Linked DNA regions of Homo sapiens. The protein of the gene in region 1 purifies or fractionates together with the protein of each later gene. This does not show direct contact. Each region holds a gene or a part of one and is shown in the gene's direction. Other genes may lie near its edges.

Evidence for each region.
Region 2: the proteins of AP4S1 (region 1) and GALNT2 purify together in Homo sapiens (affinity purification with mass spectrometry; one large-scale study listed by BioGRID and IntAct). This does not show direct contact.
Region 3: the proteins of AP4S1 (region 1) and GOLIM4 purify together in Homo sapiens (affinity purification with mass spectrometry; one large-scale study listed by BioGRID and IntAct). This does not show direct contact.

Annotation. Positions count from the first base shown.
Region 1 is NC_000014.9:31,063,534-31,067,186, forward strand, and holds part of AP4S1 (AP-4 complex subunit sigma-1), read left to right. Parts: intron 1-2,592; 5' UTR 2,593-2,663; coding exon 2,664-2,801; intron 2,802-3,653. UniProt on the Homo sapiens protein: Component of the adaptor protein complex 4 (AP-4). Adaptor protein complexes are vesicle coat components involved both in vesicle formation and cargo selection. They control the vesicular transport of proteins in different trafficking pathways.
Region 2 is NC_000001.11:230,248,636-230,252,288, forward strand, and holds part of GALNT2 (polypeptide N-acetylgalactosaminyltransferase 2 precursor), read left to right. Parts: intron 1-548; coding exon 549-636; intron 637-1,821; coding exon 1,822-1,925; intron 1,926-3,653. UniProt on the Homo sapiens protein: Catalyzes the initial reaction in O-linked oligosaccharide biosynthesis, the transfer of an N-acetyl-D-galactosamine residue to a serine or threonine residue on the protein receptor.
Region 3 is NC_000003.12:168,085,898-168,089,550, reverse strand, and holds part of GOLIM4 (Golgi integral membrane protein 4), read left to right. Parts: intron 1-3,653. UniProt on the Homo sapiens protein: Plays a role in endosome to Golgi protein trafficking; mediates protein transport along the late endosome-bypass pathway from the early endosome to the Golgi.

The DNA of each region.
Region 1 (3,653 bases):
CACTTGAGCCTAGGAGTTCAAGGCTATAGTGAGCCATGATTGTACCACTGTACTCCAGCCTGGGCCAGTATCCTCAGGACTGTTAAAGTCATGAAAAACGAGGAAGACTGAGAAACTGTCCCAGACCAGAACAGACTAAAGCAACATGACAATTAAATGCACTATAGTATCCTGGATGGGATTCAGGAACAAAAAGAGGACATTAGTGGAAGAATCGATGAACTCTAAATAAAGTCTGGAGTTAATAATAATGTACTAATATTGGTTTCTTAGTTTTGGCAAATGTACCATGGTAATGTGAGATGCTAACAATGGCCATCTTTGCAACTTTACTATAAATCTAAAATTTCAAATGTTAAAGTTCATTTAAGAACTATTACTCATCTTAGTTTTTTGCACTGGTTCTCACAGATATCACAAAACGTGAATACAATATTGTCAGCTGAGCCAGACCAGCCAGCTCTGGTGGTCATGATGAAAGAAGGACTGGCCATTGATGAATATTATGCTCACTTGCATTGATTTTTCCAAAACCTATGTTGAGTGTAAGAGAAACAAATATGAGATTCAATACAACTGAGTTAGACATAACAGCACAAGCATGAACCCCTGAATGAGGAGGATGAGTTAGGGGTGTCATGGATCCATGCATGTGCTTGGCCTTTGAACCGCAGCCCACCTCTGACACAAAGTCATGCAGTGACTTTGGGTATCTTCTTTTCTTTTTCTTTTTTTTTAAGAGTCTTGCTCTGTCACCCAGGCTGGAGTGCAGTGGCACAATCTCAGCTCACTATCACCTCCACCTCCCGGGCTCAAGAGATTCTCCTCCCTTAGCTGGAGTACAGTGGCACCATTTCAGCTCACTGCAACCTCCGCCTCCCGGATTCAAGCAATTCTCCTGCCTCAGCCTTCTGAGTAGCTGGGATTACAGGTGTGCACCACCATGCCTAGTTAATTTTTGTATTTTTACTAGAGCCAAGGATTCACCATATTGGCCAGGCTGGTCTTGAACTCCTGACCTCAAATGATCCGTCTGTGTTGGCCTCCCAAAATGCTGGGATTACAGGCATGAGCCACCGCGCCTGACCAAGTGTCTTTATTTCTAAACTTTAACCTGCTTGACCTTAAAGTAAGGATAACAGACTTGATAAGGTGGCTCACGCCCGTAATCCCAACACTTTGGGAGGCCAAAGCAGGAGGATCACTTGAGCCTAAGTGTTCAAGAACGGCTGGCAATATAGTGAAACCTCATCTCTACAAAAAGTTAAAAAATTAGCTGGACGTGATGGTGCATGCCTATAATCCTAGCTATTCAGGAGGCTGAGGTGGGGAGATCACTTGAGTCCAGAGGCAGAAGCTGCAGTAAGCTGAGATTGCACCACTGCACTCCAGCCTGGGTGACAGAGCGAGGCCCTATCTCAAAAATAAAGTAAGGATAACAGAAGTACCTACCTCAAACAATTGTGAGAATTGCTCAGCACAGCACCTTACAGAGCCTGTTATAGGGCCTGGAGGAATTTGATAAATTGATATCACTACTATTATTTCCACCACTAAGGAAAGAAAAGCTTTACTATAGATCTTGTCTCCATTGCCCATAAAATAAAGCCCAAATTCCTTAGCATGACTTCTAAAGCCAATTATATCATATGTGAGTAGCTTAATTTCCTGCAACTATTCTTCCCATGCCCTGAACTGCAGCCCCAGTGAACTTTCCAGAGCTTTCATACCTGTTTTCTCTGCCTCAGTCTTCCCCTGTAGCTCATTCTTCACGACCTCACATCAGTGCCCCTTCTCCGGGAAGCAGTTCTTCACTCTCCTGTGATGTTCCTTGTCCCTCCCTTCTGTACACCTATGGAAGCGGACCTGTCCCAGTTATAACTCATCACCTTGTACTGCCGTTGTTTACCTACCTAGCACCTTTGCTAGATGTAAAAATCAGAAGATCAGAAGTCCTTACTATTTCATCTTCACATTCTTCTGGTGCTTGACACATCGTTGTTACCCAGCAAAATGAATGAGTAAATTGAATGAATAGAAACAGAAGTACTGCAGTTGCTCAGAATTATTTTGGAGAATAACTGATGAAAATTTATCATTGGTTTTTATTTTTTTATTTTATTTTATTTATTTATGTATTTTTTTGAGACAGGGTTTTGCTCTGTTGCCCAGGCTGGAGTGCAGTGGCGCAATCTCGGCTCACTGCAAGCTCCGCCTCCGGGGTTCACACCATTCCCCTGCCTCAGCCTTTCAAGTAGTTGGAACTACAGGCCCCCGCCACCACGCCCAGCTAATTTTTTGTATTTTTAGTAGAGACAGGGTTTCACCATGTTATCCAGGATGGTCTCGATCTCCTGACCTTGTGATCCACCTGCCTCGGCCTCCCAAAGTGCTGGAATTACAGGCATGAGCCACCACACCCGGCCTGGTTTTTATTTATTAAAACCTCAATTAGTTCATAGGAATAAAGACTGATATTATCAGATGATATTTACTACTACTTTATTTACTGTTTATCTATAAAAACATTTAATATAATTATTTGAGAAATTTGATCTTGCCTTTCTGGTTTTGTTTGTTTTTGTCTTCAAGGTTCCAGTTACAGCCATCCCTTGTCATAACTTTTGAACTGTATTTGGAAAAATACTGGCCAGGAAAGAAAAATGATAAAATTTTTCCTCATGGTGAATAAACAAGGGCAGACTCGACTTTCTAAGTACTATGAACATGTGGATATTAATAAGCGTACACTTCTGGAAACAGAAGTCATAAAGAGCTGTCTCTCTCGATCCAATGAACAAGTAAGTCTCTGGTTCTCTCTTTTATCTCTGCATTCAACTCAGCCTTGGCAGATTTGTTATTAGTGAGTCTCAGGGGCCATCATTTTCTTTGAGCTATATTCCTTCAACAGCTACTAAAGAAAATAAGTGATGTGAAATGAAAAACTGAAAGAAGCATAGCTCTCTTTACATCCCTTTAAGAAAACAAAAACAAGGAAAACCTGGAAGAATCTTGGCTTCTTATTTAAGTCAGCATATTTGTCTCAATGCACCTTGGAAACGACAGTAAAATTTCCTTCTGCTAATAGACACACCTCTTCTTTTTTCATTCCTATGAATTCAGCCCTTGAAACTCTCATGAGTGCCTGTATCAGGTAGCTTTCTATAAGCCAAAAAATGAAGATCAGATGATTGGTGTAGAGGTGAATACTGAAGACCCATTTTGTGCCAGAGGATAATAATATTATTCTCAAATCGGGTGGTTTTATTCTGCTTATTATTTTTGTAAATATACCACCAATATAATACTGAAACCAGTGATTTAAAAACAAAACAAATTTGATTATCTAGGTGGGGAAAACGGAAATTAAGAATTCATGTGAAACAACAAATTTATCCATCTTCCAAAATGGAGGTTAAGGCTGGGTGCAATGGCGCACGCCTGTAATCCCAGCACTTTGGGAGGCTGAAGCGGGTGGATCACTAGAGGTCAGAAGTTCAAGACCAGCCTGGCCAGCATGGTGAAAAATTAGCTGGGCGTAATTGTGCACAACTGTAGTCCCAGCTACTGGGGAGGCCGAGGCAGGATTGTTTGAACATGGGAGGTGAAGGTTGCAGTGAGCCAAGATTGCTCCATTGCTCTCCAGCCTGAGC
Region 2 (3,653 bases), on another chromosome or scaffold:
CTTCCGCTGGCTCATTTTCCCTTAAAGTTTTCATATTCCCAGCATGTTCCCACTCCATTCTTGCTGCAAATACAGTCTGAAGTTTGCTGGCCCAGGGAACTGACAAAGCCTCGTTCCCTCCCCAGCATTGCCTTCCCCTGGGGCAGTGTTGGAGGTACCACGGCTTGATTTTCATGTTGGATGCTCTTTTTCCTCACATCCTTACAGCCCTTGGACATGCCCTGGTTATCACCACACAGACCCCAGTTCTCTCCCCATATTTCATTTTTTCCTATGCATTTCAATATTAGAAAAGCCTGACTCACATTTTCTTTAGGGAGGGGCAGGGAGAAGATTTCAACATTCACCCTCACTGCCGGTCTCTCTCTTCAGCTACACCCACGCCCCCAGTCCCCTTCTCTCTCCTCCACACCTTCTTTTTTGGCTTTGTTTTGGTTTTCATTGAGTTCTGTCCAAACATCGAATATTTTTAAGCTGTGAGGAATGGGGGTGTCGGGAGGAAGTGGCCAGTCTCTTGTCAACACCCTGTTTCTTTTCCTGGCTGGCAGGTTTTGATTGGAACTTGGTATTCAAGTGGGATTACATGACGCCTGAGCAGAGAAGGTCCCGGCAGGGGAACCCAGTCGCCCCTATAAAGTAAGTGCCAGCATCCTTCAGGGTGCCCCTCCCAGATGAGACCCCAGGTTCCAGCTTCTTTGCTGGGCCCGCACCGCCTGGAGACCCAGTGGGGGCTGTTCACCTTCTGCCCTCCGGTTTCCCCTCGTCTCAGCTCAAAGATGAGCACCTTCCACCAGGTCATAGAATAAAATCCTTGGAGATTTCTTTTCCACAGTTGAAGTCTCACATAGGTTTATAAGGCCTATCTGCTAGGTCTGTGCATTCCTGTATGTTGATAATGTAGAGCGTTTCTGTAGCAGAGCAGGATCTCCGAGCTGACCCCAGGCCCAGGAAAAGGGGCTTGGTGGGCAGCAGGAGGCTTACTGCTGCTACTGCCCAGCAGGCCTTTGCTCTCCTGCAGAGGAAGGAGCCCATGCTCATGAAGCCCATGCTTTTAAGATTCCCAGGCCGGGCGGTGGGCTTTCTGGTTGAGAGTCAGGATGCCTTCTCTAGCTGGGGAGAGAAGGGGGCCACCTCTTCCAAGTTGGCACACGGTTAAGTGAGATAGCATTCACAGAGTACTTAGCGCTGAAATATATTTGCTGACATTTAGCCAACATCTGCAGTGTGCCATAGACCTTCCCAGCACTTTACACTGAATTCGCACAGCATCGCTTCTGGGAACAAAGTAGGGAGCTCAGTGTACATCTGTTGTCAACCCCTTCCTGGGATGATGAAGTGAGGAGCATGGTGGGTTCCCTTGTAGGAGGTGGAGTCTCATCTATGATAGTGATAATGAGAGCTGGTGCTGTGGAGCATTTCCTAAGCGTGCTCAGGGCTTTATGCCCATGATTTTTTGCAATCCTCGTAGCTACCCTATAAGGAAACTGACACACAGAAAGGCCGAGTTCTTTGCCTATGGCAGCATGTCAGTGAGTAGTGATCCAGCCCCAGCAGTCGCTCCCACATAGGGGAGGCTCAGTCCAGCCCCTGGCACTGTGGGAACATCCAGGCAGGGACAGTGGGGGAGGCATTTGAAGGCAGCAGTGGTGAAGCAGAGAGAGTGGCATGCTGGGCACTGAGCAGAAAACAGTGGCAGTGTGGCTGTTCTGAAGATCAGCTTATTGTTAGGGAATCAAGGCTTGGCCTTGGCGCAAGGGTGCTGGCAATCTAACCTTGACTTTGCCCTCTCCTCCCTCCCCCCTCTTCTTTCTGCCTCTTTAGAACCCCCATGATTGCTGGTGGGCTGTTTGTGATGGATAAGTTCTATTTTGAAGAACTGGGGAAGTACGACATGATGATGGATGTGTGGGGAGGAGAGAACCTAGGTATGTACAAGCCTCAAATCTCAGGACAGAGAAGTGCCTCAGCTCTGCAAAAGGCAGGGTGCCAATTGGAAAAAAAATTTAAAAGGCTTCAGAGTGACCATTCACTGGGCTTAATCGATCCTTGCAAACACATATGTAACACCCCTTTTGCTCTTGAAAGTCTCATGAGTTGGGCATTAAAATGTGCCTCCCTAGGTTAGAGTGGAGGATGCCAGAATACGGATAAAGTCTTTGAAGGGAAATGCAAACTCTTTCAAGGCGTCTGAACCCAAGTGTTTGGAATGTTGCAGGCTTGCAAAAACAGAGGGAAACAGTCCAGGAGCTCAGATTCATGCTGAGTGGTGGAGAGTGGAAAATGAACCCCGGCGAGGCTGGTGGGATTGATTGAATTGAAATCATGAAAATCCGATGGGGCAGGGAGGCCTTGGCACTTAATCCCTTCTCGACTACCTTTGCGAATGGTTCTCATTTGTTTTTCTGTTTGTTTGTTTTTTTGTTTTTAAATACCCCATGCAAATTATTTTTACCCAGGTTTAGGCACAGCAAAATTTTGCACATTGTGGTCTATATTGGTAGCCTTATATTTACTGCATAAAAGATGAAAAGATGTGTTTTGTTTGTTTAGGGTTTGGAGTGGGGGAGATCTTTTTTGCTTGTTTCAATTAAAGCCTTTTGTTTCAAATGCTTGACATTCTGAGCGAATTCTCCTGGGCTGCTGAGTGTTGTTAACTTACATTCGTCCTTGGGTGAGTGTACCCTGGAGGACAGGGGAGAAGGAAAGGGGAAAATGAGGCCACTCATTTTTAATAGTTTTGAGACTTTGAAAGTTTTTGTTACTTTAAAAGAAAAGACTAGCCTAGCCTATTATTTTTCCATTGTTTTATGATGTTGAAGTCAGTGATACCATCTCATCTTTGAGGATTTCTCTGCCTTGGTTTGATGTTGAAAGCTTCTTTAGGCTCGATTACTATACTGCACGGGTGGAGAGACCGTGAGTCAAACTCCTTTTGGGTTGTTTTAAAAAAATGATACATTAACCTCTAGGGAAAGCTTGGATTGAAGTCACTTGAGTACAAAAGGCTTCAGAATTGTTAACCCTCTAAAGAGAGTTCTGTCACCCTGTTCCATGGGTATCCCCTAATGGTTTAGTGGAAATCCAGCAGGCCAGGGTCGCCCAGTAGGGCAGCGTATCGTGTAGGTGGCCATTTCTCAAAAACAGTGTGGTTTTCAGAAGTTTGCATACTATTAGCTGAAATGAGACATCAGCCAGCATTTTGTGTCATCGTGTAGGAAGAGTGTTGATTTACATATCTAAGGAGGCATTCACCCAGAGACTGGGGGGTAGATTTGTTGTAAGGAGCTGCTTTATTGTGGTTTGGTGTTTGTATTTATTATGTAGCTGTGCTAGAAGGTTCTAGGGTCTGAGCGGTTCAGGTTGGGGTGAAGATGAACCCTGCAAGCAGGAGCACATCTCTGCCCAGGAAGGCTGGGGCATCTGTCCCTCCGTGAGGGGCTCTCCTGGGTTATGCCAAGGACTTGGACTCCCAGTGAGGTTTGGAGGGCTCAAGAGCTTCACGTGAGAAGGCCATGCCGTGAGCCTTTCTCCTTAGCACTGCTCTAGCTTCTGCTTCTGGGGGCCGTGCACACTACTAGCCATTGCCAACCTGAGGGGCCTCTGTGGGTGTGCATTGGGAGAGGTGTATGGTGCAGAGAGGCCCGAGTAAGATC
Region 3 (3,653 bases), on another chromosome or scaffold:
AAGTTATTTAACCTTTCTGTGACTCAATCTATTCATATGTAATAATCAGGATAATAGTGCTTACAAAAGGTTATCTTGAGAATCAATAGTGTTAGCTGATGTGCAGTGCTTAGAAGGGTGTAGCTTGCATTTTGGATGATTGAGGAAACATATACAACAGAGTGGTTCATAGACCTCAGCAATTTAGACCACAAGTGTGGGCAATGTGTGGTAGGTGTACTAATTTTCAAGTGCAGCGTTAGAACTTAAAACATGAACTAGACATTGTCTATTAAATGGACATCTTCACTGAAGTACAACTTAGAGTTAAATGAAGAGACTATCATTTTTGCTTGATCCTGTACCATTTAGAATATGGAACAAAAATACTCTTAAGTTCAGTAATTTTTATTTGTGTGTAAATTCCTTCCCTGAATAAAAGATAAAAGCTTCCAAATACCTTTTGAAGCTCTAATTCAGTGAAGCATTCTTTTGAATATGTATGATTTGCACATAATCTATAATCGATTTCACACGTTGTGCCCACCTTAGTCATCCCTCTAATATGTAACATGCCAACTCTAATGAGAGTACTGGTGTCCAGGTAAATAATTGGTTGCTGTGTAAGAGAATTACTTGTTATCTGGGAGCCTTTAGTTTAAGTTCCAAGTAGATTGGAAGCCTTGCCTTGATTTCTTTTTATTCTTTCTTTTCTTAGGAAGGACAGTTTCCAAAAGGGCTGGGGTACAATACCACATTACTGTGGCTGAAGGAATAAGTGAATTGGAGTTGGGGAAATGAATACTGACTAAATATGGTGTGAATCAAAAAGCAAAGGATTGGAGAGAAACCAGAAGAGGGCAGGGAAAGAAAAGGGGACACATATCACCTGGTGACTTTTCAAAGTACTGAGGAAGAGTTTTGTTCACATCTTTATGTCCTAAAAGAAAAGCAGCAGGAAATGGTGACTGGAGAGCTGGTTGGGGCATCAGATGTGGTTTCAGTGCAACTCAGGCATTTACCAGCAGGGTGACCTTGAGCAGGCAAATAACCTCTCTGAACTTCAGCCTCTTCGTGTTTTAATTTGGGTTAGCAATGTCTAACTTGCAAACTTGTATGGATTAGAAATAGTGCATCTGAAGTGACGAGTATGAGTCCTGGAGAATATTACTACTACCATTTATTAGGTGACCAGAACTACTGTTGTTGAATTAACATTGGGCTTCTTTTTATTTTGCCCAGCCTTTACTACATCTAGTAGGTAAGAGTGTTATTAGTGCTGGCCTAAAAGTGGCTCCTTTCACTATGTGCCCTACTTGGCTGAAACTTTTTGATTAAGATATTCTCACTCTGTCTTTTCTACCCTTTTGAGCCGTTCTTGGGGTGGAAAAAACCTGAAAATGCTTTACATGATAGCAACTAAGAGTTGTTGTTTTTCATTTTGACAGCCAATGGTTCTTCTTTTATCATTAAGGACAAAGTGGTTTTGCTACTTTTGCCAGTAGATGGTTTATGGGTTTTATAGCTTTATTTTGAAGTGAAAGTTATATATCATATAGCTTTATTATAAAAGAAAAATGATAAACTATATTTTCTTTTTAGCCAGTGTTCTTTGGAGTGAATTTTAGTAGAATTTTGAAAACTTATTTGAGAAAATTAAATTATTTTTAATCCATAACATTTATTGAGTACCTACCATGTTCGGGTTCAATGCTAAGCTTATTACATGCATTATGTCATTTAACTGTGACACTAGCACTTTAATCTGAATGAGCAATCTGAGGCTTAGAGAGGTTAATTAACTTGCCAGTGTCAAGATCTAGCCTGATGAAACTAAGCTTAGAAACCTAATGTAACTTTTTCCATAGTGCATCATTGCCCTCAAAATTATTTTAGTGTCTCTCATGACAGTATTAATGGTTTTAAGAAAGTAGGTTAGGTGGGTCATATGGGGATTCATGATAAAATTTAGAATCAGAAATAACGGGTGTACTATTTGATGCAGCATTTCCAGGGTACAAGAAATTTGCTGCTGGTATGAAAGATGATTTTGGTTGATACTAGAGTTGATTTTATGTGGCATGTAGATGTTGCCTGAAATGACAGTGAATCATATAATGAAAAACTTATTTCCTTTCAATGCTTTCCTGACAAGTAATGGAGAAATTCTCAGTCTGATGCTAGAATCTCTCTCCTAGAGAGTTGCTTCTCTGTTTTTCCAAAGAGAATAGACGTTAGGCAGCCAACAACTTGATAGCTAGAATTTGATAATTGTTTTGTTGTATTATTGTATTTAATTTTAAAATTAAATCTATTACCAATCATTAATGCTATGTAAATCAGATTTTTCATTTATAAAGTAGTGGTGTAAAAGTTTCCTGTTTAAAGTTTATTTTAAGGAAAAATAAACTTATTTAAGTGATTATTTGGTGGATTCAAAAAAACTGTACAGGTTTTGCATGAGTGTAGTAAGAACTCGCCTGAGGGGTGCCTGCATGTCTGAAGTTTAGGAATGCATTGACTGATCAAGTTGGATACAGACACTGAATTTTACAGTTAGTTAACTGAATTCTAAGGTGGATAAGTCACTTACCAGGTAGCTTAAGCTAAGCTGAGAGCCCACATACTCTGACTCTCAGTACAAGATAATACCCCTTCACTGCTCTGTGCTGTCTCTGTAGACTAGGACCCTCTTCTCTGTGAGAAGAAATGGGCATTGCTATTTTTAAACAGTGCTGTGTATTTCTGAATGGTATATTTGTGTTCTTTGTTTTTATTGGCCCATGAGTGCATATGCAGAAGACATGTCAGTCATTGTCCTTCACTGATAAGCTTTACTAAATAGGCTCATAGCCCGGAGGGACATGGGCATGAAATAAATTGCTCTCTATAGCCGTATGACATTTTAAAAAATACTGCTTTAACTATTTTTCATACATAAAATGTCACAATATGATAGTGAATAGAAAATTAAGATGTGCTGTCATTCTGAAGGATAGGCATTATAGAACATTGAAATGATATTATTTGCTTTTCTTTGGGAGTGCATGAAGTTAAAAAAATTATAATCATTTTAGGAGAGTCAGACATTTCATTTTCCAGTTCACATCTCATTTAAAATGCCTCCTTTAATTGGAATCTTTGTTACAAACAGAAAAAATAATCTGCAAATCAAGATATTTAGGACAGCTTTGACATTGCTTATGTGTTCTCTTGATAATAGCTATGATGCTGTCAAATAAATATTATAAACAGATTAAAATTTGGCAGTTGATAATTGATTAATTTGGTTTAGAGAAGTTTATCAAGTTTTATATTAGTGAGATTTATTAATAAATAATATTAATATTAGAAATCTATGATGCTTGCCCTTCTGCATTAGTAGCTCAATCTTTTAACAGACAGAAAATGTTTTAAATTATTTTATATTTTATTTAGAGGTTTGGATGCTATAAAACAAGTTAAATTGTATTGATGTCAAACATCACTTTTATTAAAATATGAAAAATAATTTTTTTTACTGTATAGGCGGTCATCACCTCAAAATCTAGATGCCATCCAAATTTGATCCAGGTGTGGGTGAGGCCCCTTAGGTATCCATACAATCTTTAACTATAATTCTTCAAGTATGCTTCCTCTTTATCTGTAGATCTGTGAAACCAGAGTCAAATTAC